Homo sapiens: one gene and its partner. The protein of the gene in region 1 purifies or fractionates together with the protein of each later gene. This does not show direct contact. Each region holds a gene or a part of one and is shown in the gene's direction. Other genes may lie near its edges.

What was found.
Region 2: the proteins of DDR2 (region 1) and FLG purify together in Homo sapiens (affinity purification with mass spectrometry; one large-scale study listed by BioGRID and IntAct). This does not show direct contact.

Annotation. Positions count from the first base shown.
Region 1 is NC_000001.11:162,757,831-162,761,493, forward strand, and holds part of DDR2 (discoidin domain-containing receptor 2 precursor), read left to right. Parts: intron 1-1,965; coding exon 1,966-2,149; intron 2,150-3,380; coding exon 3,381-3,624; intron 3,625-3,663. UniProt on the Homo sapiens protein: Tyrosine kinase involved in the regulation of tissues remodeling. It functions as a cell surface receptor for fibrillar collagen and regulates cell differentiation, remodeling of the extracellular matrix, cell migration and cell proliferation.
Region 2 is NC_000001.11:152,311,616-152,315,278, reverse strand, and holds part of FLG (filaggrin), read left to right. Parts: intron 1-321; exon of another isoform or gene 322-531; coding exon 532-3,663.

The DNA of each region.
Region 1 (3,663 bases):
GATATTCATTTAGGATGTTTGAAATCTGATTGGATGTATGAGGCAAAACAGTAGGGTGAGAAAAAGGGTCAGATGAAGTTTGACAGTCTAAGTGACTGAAACAATGGGGATGACATTTATTTATTCGACAAATATATTTTGAGTGCTTACCTTGCGCCAAGCATTTTCCATTACTATGAAGAGAAGTATAATTTATGGAAAAGGGAAACCAAGGAGAAAGACTTAGTTCAGTAGGGGATGATGATGGATTTAGTTTGGAGTGTAGGTCTGTGAGACTGAGAAGACATTCAGTAGAGAAATAAGGAAGGTAGCCGGAATTATGGCTCTTAACTCCAGGGGAAAGATAAAAAAAATTACAAAAATGTAGACATCATTGGCTTTCATTTAATAATTGAAGTAATGAAATATCTGGTGGAGGTGGCTGAGTGAAGAGATCCTCTCAGCCACTGAGAGATGACATCAGAGTCTCAGGAAATAGTCATATTAGCAAAAGTTACTTTTTAAATTTAAAACAATTTCAAGAATAATATATGCTTACTGGTGATTTTAATAACTCTAAAGTATATAAATATTGAACATTTATTTTCTTATCCCTTCTTCACTTGATTTAATTTTGACCAAGGGGGAACTGAACAGGCATTCCTTTTAATTTCTGTTGCTTTTCATAAAACTTTCCTGGGATTTATTTTTCTGAGGATAATGGGAAATATATTTATTGCAAGTAAACTTACGTTCTCCTAGCTTTCTGATCTGTAGAGAGAAGAAAAAGATGGCAAAACCTTGGAAGGGAGATCCAGGCTCTGGTCACTGTGGATAAGGCCAGTCAAATTTTATAATTTACCAAACATTTTCAATGATTAAATATATTTTAAAAGGCTGGCATAATCACCCTTAGTATTTTTTTATTTTTTGCGATTCACAAATTTTACATATTATTGATCTAGCTCTAAACCTCAAGGGTCACACCAATTATTGCTTGAGGGTGAGTATCCCAATCTCGTCATTTGGGAAATTTGTGTCATATCTGCCAGAGCTTGAGATGCAGAGCTTGAGGAAAGAGAAGTTCCACATGATGGTTTTTGCTCTGTCCCTCCATAAAAAGAAGGAAGGAGCCTCTTCGTGTTCTCTAAGTAGTCAAATAAGCATACATGCAGTTATATTCCATCCAGCAGTCAGGCTTCTGGAAAACTCAGCCTTTAAAACAGAGCCTCTTACTCAGAAGTCAAAAAAGCCTGCTAAGCTAGAACACAAAACTAAATCCAATACCTGGGATTCTCATGAAATCCTTGCATCTTACTTCCTGGGTCTAGTATCCTACAAATTTAATTAGAATTAAATAGAAATTATTATTTAAATTTAGAGCTTGTATTTTCCCCCTTAGTTTAATATCAAACTGGGTTGTTGGATATGTGGAATAGAAGAGAGTGTGACTGGATTCTCTGAAATTGATTCACTGAACAATGACAATATGTAGTTAAAGGAGAGTCAGCACCAAGCTCTGGAAACATTTATATGATAGTGGGGCAAGTGCTACTATGTATGGTAGCATTCATTCTATGCATTTATCCATTTCCTCATTTACTCTATGAATTAGTTCATCAAATGCATTTGATAATATTAAGTCATTATGTGAAGACATATTCAGTATATAAGAATAGGCAAGGTGCAATAAATTATAGAAAGCTTTTCATATTAAATAAGACATTGTTTAAAAGTTTTACTACTAAAGGAGTAAGCATCAAATATTTTATAAAAATTACTAATATGAAATTCTTAGTTCTCCATTGATGCAAGATAAACGAGTCAATACTATAATGCAAATCTGATTATTTACAATCCTTCAATTCCAAGATAATAAGCTCATACAAAATCTGGAGTGAAGATGCCGGGTAAAAGCTCTTCCACGAATGTGTGGTTAACTCAGATTTCTCTCTCCTTTTCCTCCTCTTCTCCTGGCCTGAGCAGCATGACAGAAGGGCTAGGCCAATTGACCGATGGTGTGTCTGGCCTGGACGATTTCACCCAGACCCATGAATACCACGTGTGGCCCGGCTATGACTATGTGGGCTGGCGGAACGAGAGTGCCACCAATGGCTACATTGAGATCATGTTTGAATTTGACCGCATCAGGAATTTCACTACCATGAAGGTCAGTGGGGTCGGGTGTGGTGGAACTTCTTTAAGGAGGCACAAATCATAGTGTGGTAGAGAAAAGGCATGCTAGAAAAAAGTCTAGGCTGATGCCAGTTCAATGACATATTCTGTTACTAACTAGCTAAATGCATTTCACAAGTCACTTCATCTCTAAGGGCGTGATTCTCCATTTGTGTGTAAGGGAGTTAGAATAGGTCAGTGAGCTCTCTTTTTTTTGTTGTTTTGACACTAAAGGTGACATATCCATTAAGCCAATAACACAGTGTCCAGGGCCCACAGATTTTTAAGACGCATAAAAATGCTCTAATTTCTTTTAATATCAGGTGAAAAAAATAAATTTTTAGGGTCAAAGATTATCTTTTTACCAGCACAGTTGTGTGTGTGTGTGTGTGTGTGTATACACACACAACTATATATATATACACAATGATATATATATATACACAACTACATATATATAACCATATATACATATACAACTATATATATACATATACAACTATATATGTATATACATATACAACTATATATATGTATATACATATACAACTAGATATATGTATATACATATACAACTAGATATATGTATATACATATACAACTAGATATATGTATATACATATACAACTAGATATATATATGTAGTTGGTGTTCTGCAGTCTTCTGAATTTTTCCTTCTAGGAACCTCACAGTGGCAGTGATAGTTGGTCAGGCCTTATAAAACCTGGGCTGCAACCCTGGTTACCTGTATGCACTGTCTGCCCTTGGCCACCTCACTTCATGTTGCTGGACTGCAGTTTTCTCATCTGTTAAATGAGGACTGCACCAGCATCTTCTCAGCCCTTCCTTGCCTTGAACTCTCTCGAGTCTATAATCCTCTCAGCCGCAGTTGCCGTCTACCCTGATTCGTGTGTGTATCTATACACATAGATACATACACACATATGTGAGAATATGTGTATTCTCATTTAGAAATGAGATTTCTAAAAAAAAAAATGAAATTGTTTTAGATTGTACACTATTTTGGGTTTCTCACCTAGCCCTGTGAAAAGAAGAAGACTGGCTCTGAAATGTACCTAGGAGGAAGCAGGATGGCAGTCTTCCTCTTACCTCAGTTCAGAATAGCTCGAATCAGGGTAGACGGCAACTACTGAGTTGGCTGGCACTGTGTCTCCATGCACCTTAGCAGGGCCAACCTATCACTCACATGCCTCTTTCTCTACCAGGTCCACTGCAACAACATGTTTGCTAAAGGTGTGAAGATCTTTAAGGAGGTACAGTGCTACTTCCGCTCTGAAGCCAGTGAGTGGGAACCTAATGCCATTTCCTTCCCCCTTGTCCTGGATGACGTCAACCCCAGTGCTCGGTTTGTCACGGTGCCTCTCCACCACCGAATGGCCAGTGCCATCAAGTGTCAATACCATTTTGCAGATACCTGGATGATGTTCAGTGAGATCACCTTCCAATCAGGTAGGGAGCTCAGGTCCTCTTTGGGAAGTGGGAGCAAGG
Region 2 (3,663 bases), about 10 Mb from region 1:
TTCTCATCAATAATCTAAGCAAGGGTTATTTTGAGCTCTTTGTGAACTATTTCTCTTAAAATAGGAAAAGAGTTAATCTTGTCTCAAAAGAGATAGATTTTATTTTCTTCCCCTATACCTGGATGTATATTATAAACATAAAGACACCCTCAGAGAAAAAAATATAAATATTTAAAAATTAATGTAAATTAGTTCTTAGTATTTTGGTATTTATAATATTCTCCCAAACATCAACATTACTAAGGGGATTTTTGTTAAAGACAACTAAGTAATGAATTATATACACTTCTGACTTTTAAAATAAGAAAAAGAGTCACTTACCCCATCAAATCTTGATACCTTACTAGTCTACATCTTTGTTCACATATAACACCTGAATGAGGATGAGACAAAAAAGTCTTAAAAAAAAAAAAGATTTTGTCCCACTTTTTAATACTCAAAGATCAGGTTCCTTAAATTAACTTTGAATTAATTGGCTGATAATGTGATTCTGTCTGATGCAGTCTCCCTCTGTGACTTCCCTCTGTACAGAATCCAGATGACCCAGATATGGTTGATGTCTTCATGGATCACTTGGATATAGACCACAACAAGAAAATTGACTTCACTGAGTTTCTTCTGATGGTATTCAAGTTGGCTCAAGCATATTATGAGTCTACCAGAAAAGAGAATTTACCGATATCAGGACACAAGCACAGAAAGCACAGTCATCATGATAAACATGAAGATAATAAACAGGAAGAAAACAAAGAAAACAGAAAAAGACCCTCAAGTCTGGAAAGAAGAAACAATAGAAAAGGGAATAAGGGAAGATCCAAGAGCCCAAGAGAAACAGGGGGGAAAAGGCATGAATCTAGTTCTGAAAAAAAAGAAAGAAAAGGATATTCACCTACTCATAGAGAAGAAGAATATGGAAAAAACCATCATAACTCAAGTAAAAAAGAGAAAAACAAGACTGAAAATACTAGATTAGGAGACAATAGGAAGAGGCTAAGTGAAAGACTTGAAGAGAAAGAAGACAATGAAGAAGGAGTATATGATTATGAAAATACAGGAAGAATGACTCAAAAATGGATACAATCAGGCCATATTGCCACATATTACACAATCCAGGATGAAGCCTATGACACCACTGATAGTCTATTAGAAGAAAACAAAATATATGAAAGATCAAGGTCATCTGATGGCAAATCATCATCTCAAGTGAACAGGTCAAGACATGAAAATACAAGCCAGGTACCATTGCAGGAGTCCAGGACAAGAAAGCGTAGGGGATCCAGAGTTAGCCAGGACAGGGACAGTGAGGGACACTCAGAAGACTCTGAGAGGCACTCTGGGTCGGCTTCCAGAAACCATCATGGATCTGCGTGGGAGCAGTCAAGAGATGGCTCCAGACACCCCAGGTCCCATGATGAAGACAGAGCCAGTCATGGGCACTCTGCAGACAGCTCCAGACAATCAGGCACTCGTCACGCAGAGACTTCCTCTCGTGGACAGACTGCATCATCCCATGAACAGGCAAGATCAAGTCCAGGAGAAAGACATGGATCCGGCCACCAGCAGTCAGCAGACAGCTCCAGACACTCAGCCACTGGGCGCGGGCAAGCTTCATCTGCAGTCAGCGATCGTGGACACCGGGGGTCTAGCGGTAGTCAGGCCAGTGACAGTGAGGGACATTCAGAAAACTCAGACACACAATCAGTGTCAGGCCACGGAAAGGCTGGGCTGAGACAGCAGAGCCACCAAGAGTCCACACGTGGCCGGTCAGGGGAACGGTCTGGACGTTCAGGGTCTTCCCTCTACCAGGTGAGCACTCATGAACAGCCTGACTCTGCCCATGGACGGACCGGGACCAGCACTGGAGGAAGACAAGGATCGCACCACGAGCAGGCACGAGACAGCTCCAGGCATTCAGCGTCCCAAGAGGGTCAGGACACCATTCGTGGACACCCGGGGTCAAGCAGAGGAGGAAGGCAGGGATCCCACCACGAGCAATCGGTAAATAGGTCTGGACACTCAGGTTCCCATCACAGCCACACCACATCCCAGGGAAGGTCTGATGCCTCCCATGGGCAGTCAGGATCCAGAAGTGCAAGCAGACAAACACGAAATGAGGAACAATCAGGAGACGGCACCAGGCACTCAGGGTCACGTCATCATGAAGCTTCCTCTCAGGCTGACAGCTCTAGACACTCACAGGTGGGCCAGGGACAATCATCGGGGCCCAGGACAAGTAGGAACCAGGGATCCAGTGTTAGCCAGGACAGTGACAGTCAGGGACACTCAGAAGACTCTGAGAGGTGGTCTGGGTCTGCTTCCAGAAACCATCATGGATCTGCTCAGGAGCAGTCAAGAGATGGCTCCAGACACCCCAGGTCCCATCACGAAGACAGAGCTGGTCATGGGCACTCTGCAGACAGCTCCAGAAAATCAGGCACTCGTCACACACAGAATTCCTCTAGTGGACAGGCTGCGTCATCCCATGAACAGGCAAGATCAAGTGCAGGAGAAAGACATGGATCCCGCCACCAGCTCCAGTCAGCAGACAGCTCCAGACACTCAGGCACTGGGCACGGACAAGCTTCATCTGCAGTCAGAGACAGTGGACACCGAGGGTCCAGTGGTAGTCAGGCCACTGACAGTGAGGGACATTCAGAAGACTCAGACACACAGTCAGTGTCAGGCCATGGACAGGCTGGTCACCATCAGCAGAGCCACCAAGAGTCCGCACGTGACCGGTCAGGGGAAAGGTCTCGACGTTCAGGGTCTTTCCTCTACCAGGTGAGCACTCATAAACAGTCTGAGTCCTCCCATGGATGGACAGGGCCCAGCACTGGAGTAAGACAAGGATCCCACCATGAGCAGGCACGAGACAACTCCAGGCACTCAGCATCCCAAGATGGTCAGGACACCATTCGTGGACACCCGGGGTCAAGCAGAAGAGGAAGGCAGGGGTCCCACCACGAGCAATCGGTAGATAGGTCTGGACACTCAGGGTCCCATCACAGCCACACCACATCCCAGGGAAGGTCTGATGCCTCCCGTGGGCAGTCAGGATCCAGAAGTGCAAGCAGAACAACACGTAATGAGGAACAATCAAGAGACGGCTCCAGGCACTCAGGGTCACGTCACCATGAAGCTTCCTCTCATGCCGACATCTCTAGACACTCACAGGCAGGCCAGGGACAATCAGAGGGGTCCAGGACAAGCAGGCGCCAGGGATCCAGTGTTAGCCAGGACAGTGACAGTGAGGGACATTCAGAAGACTCTGAGAGGTGGTCTGGGTCTGCTTCCAGAAACCATCGTGGATCTGCTCAGGAGCAGTCAAGACATGGCTCCAGACACCCCAGGTCCCATCACGAAGACAGAGCCGGTCACGGGCACTCTGCAGACAGCTCCAGACAATCAGGAACTCCTCACGCAGAGACTTCCTCTGGTGGACAGGCTGCGTCATCCCATGAACAGGCAAGATCAAGTCCAGGAGAAAGACACGGATCCCGCCACCAGCAGTCAGCAGACAGCTCCAGACACTCAGGCATTCCGCGCAGACAAGCTTCATCTGCAGTCAGAGACAGTGGACACTGGGGGTCCAGTGGTAGTCAGGCCAGTGATAGTGAGGGACATTCAGAGGAGTCAGACACACAGTCAGTGTCAGGCCATGGA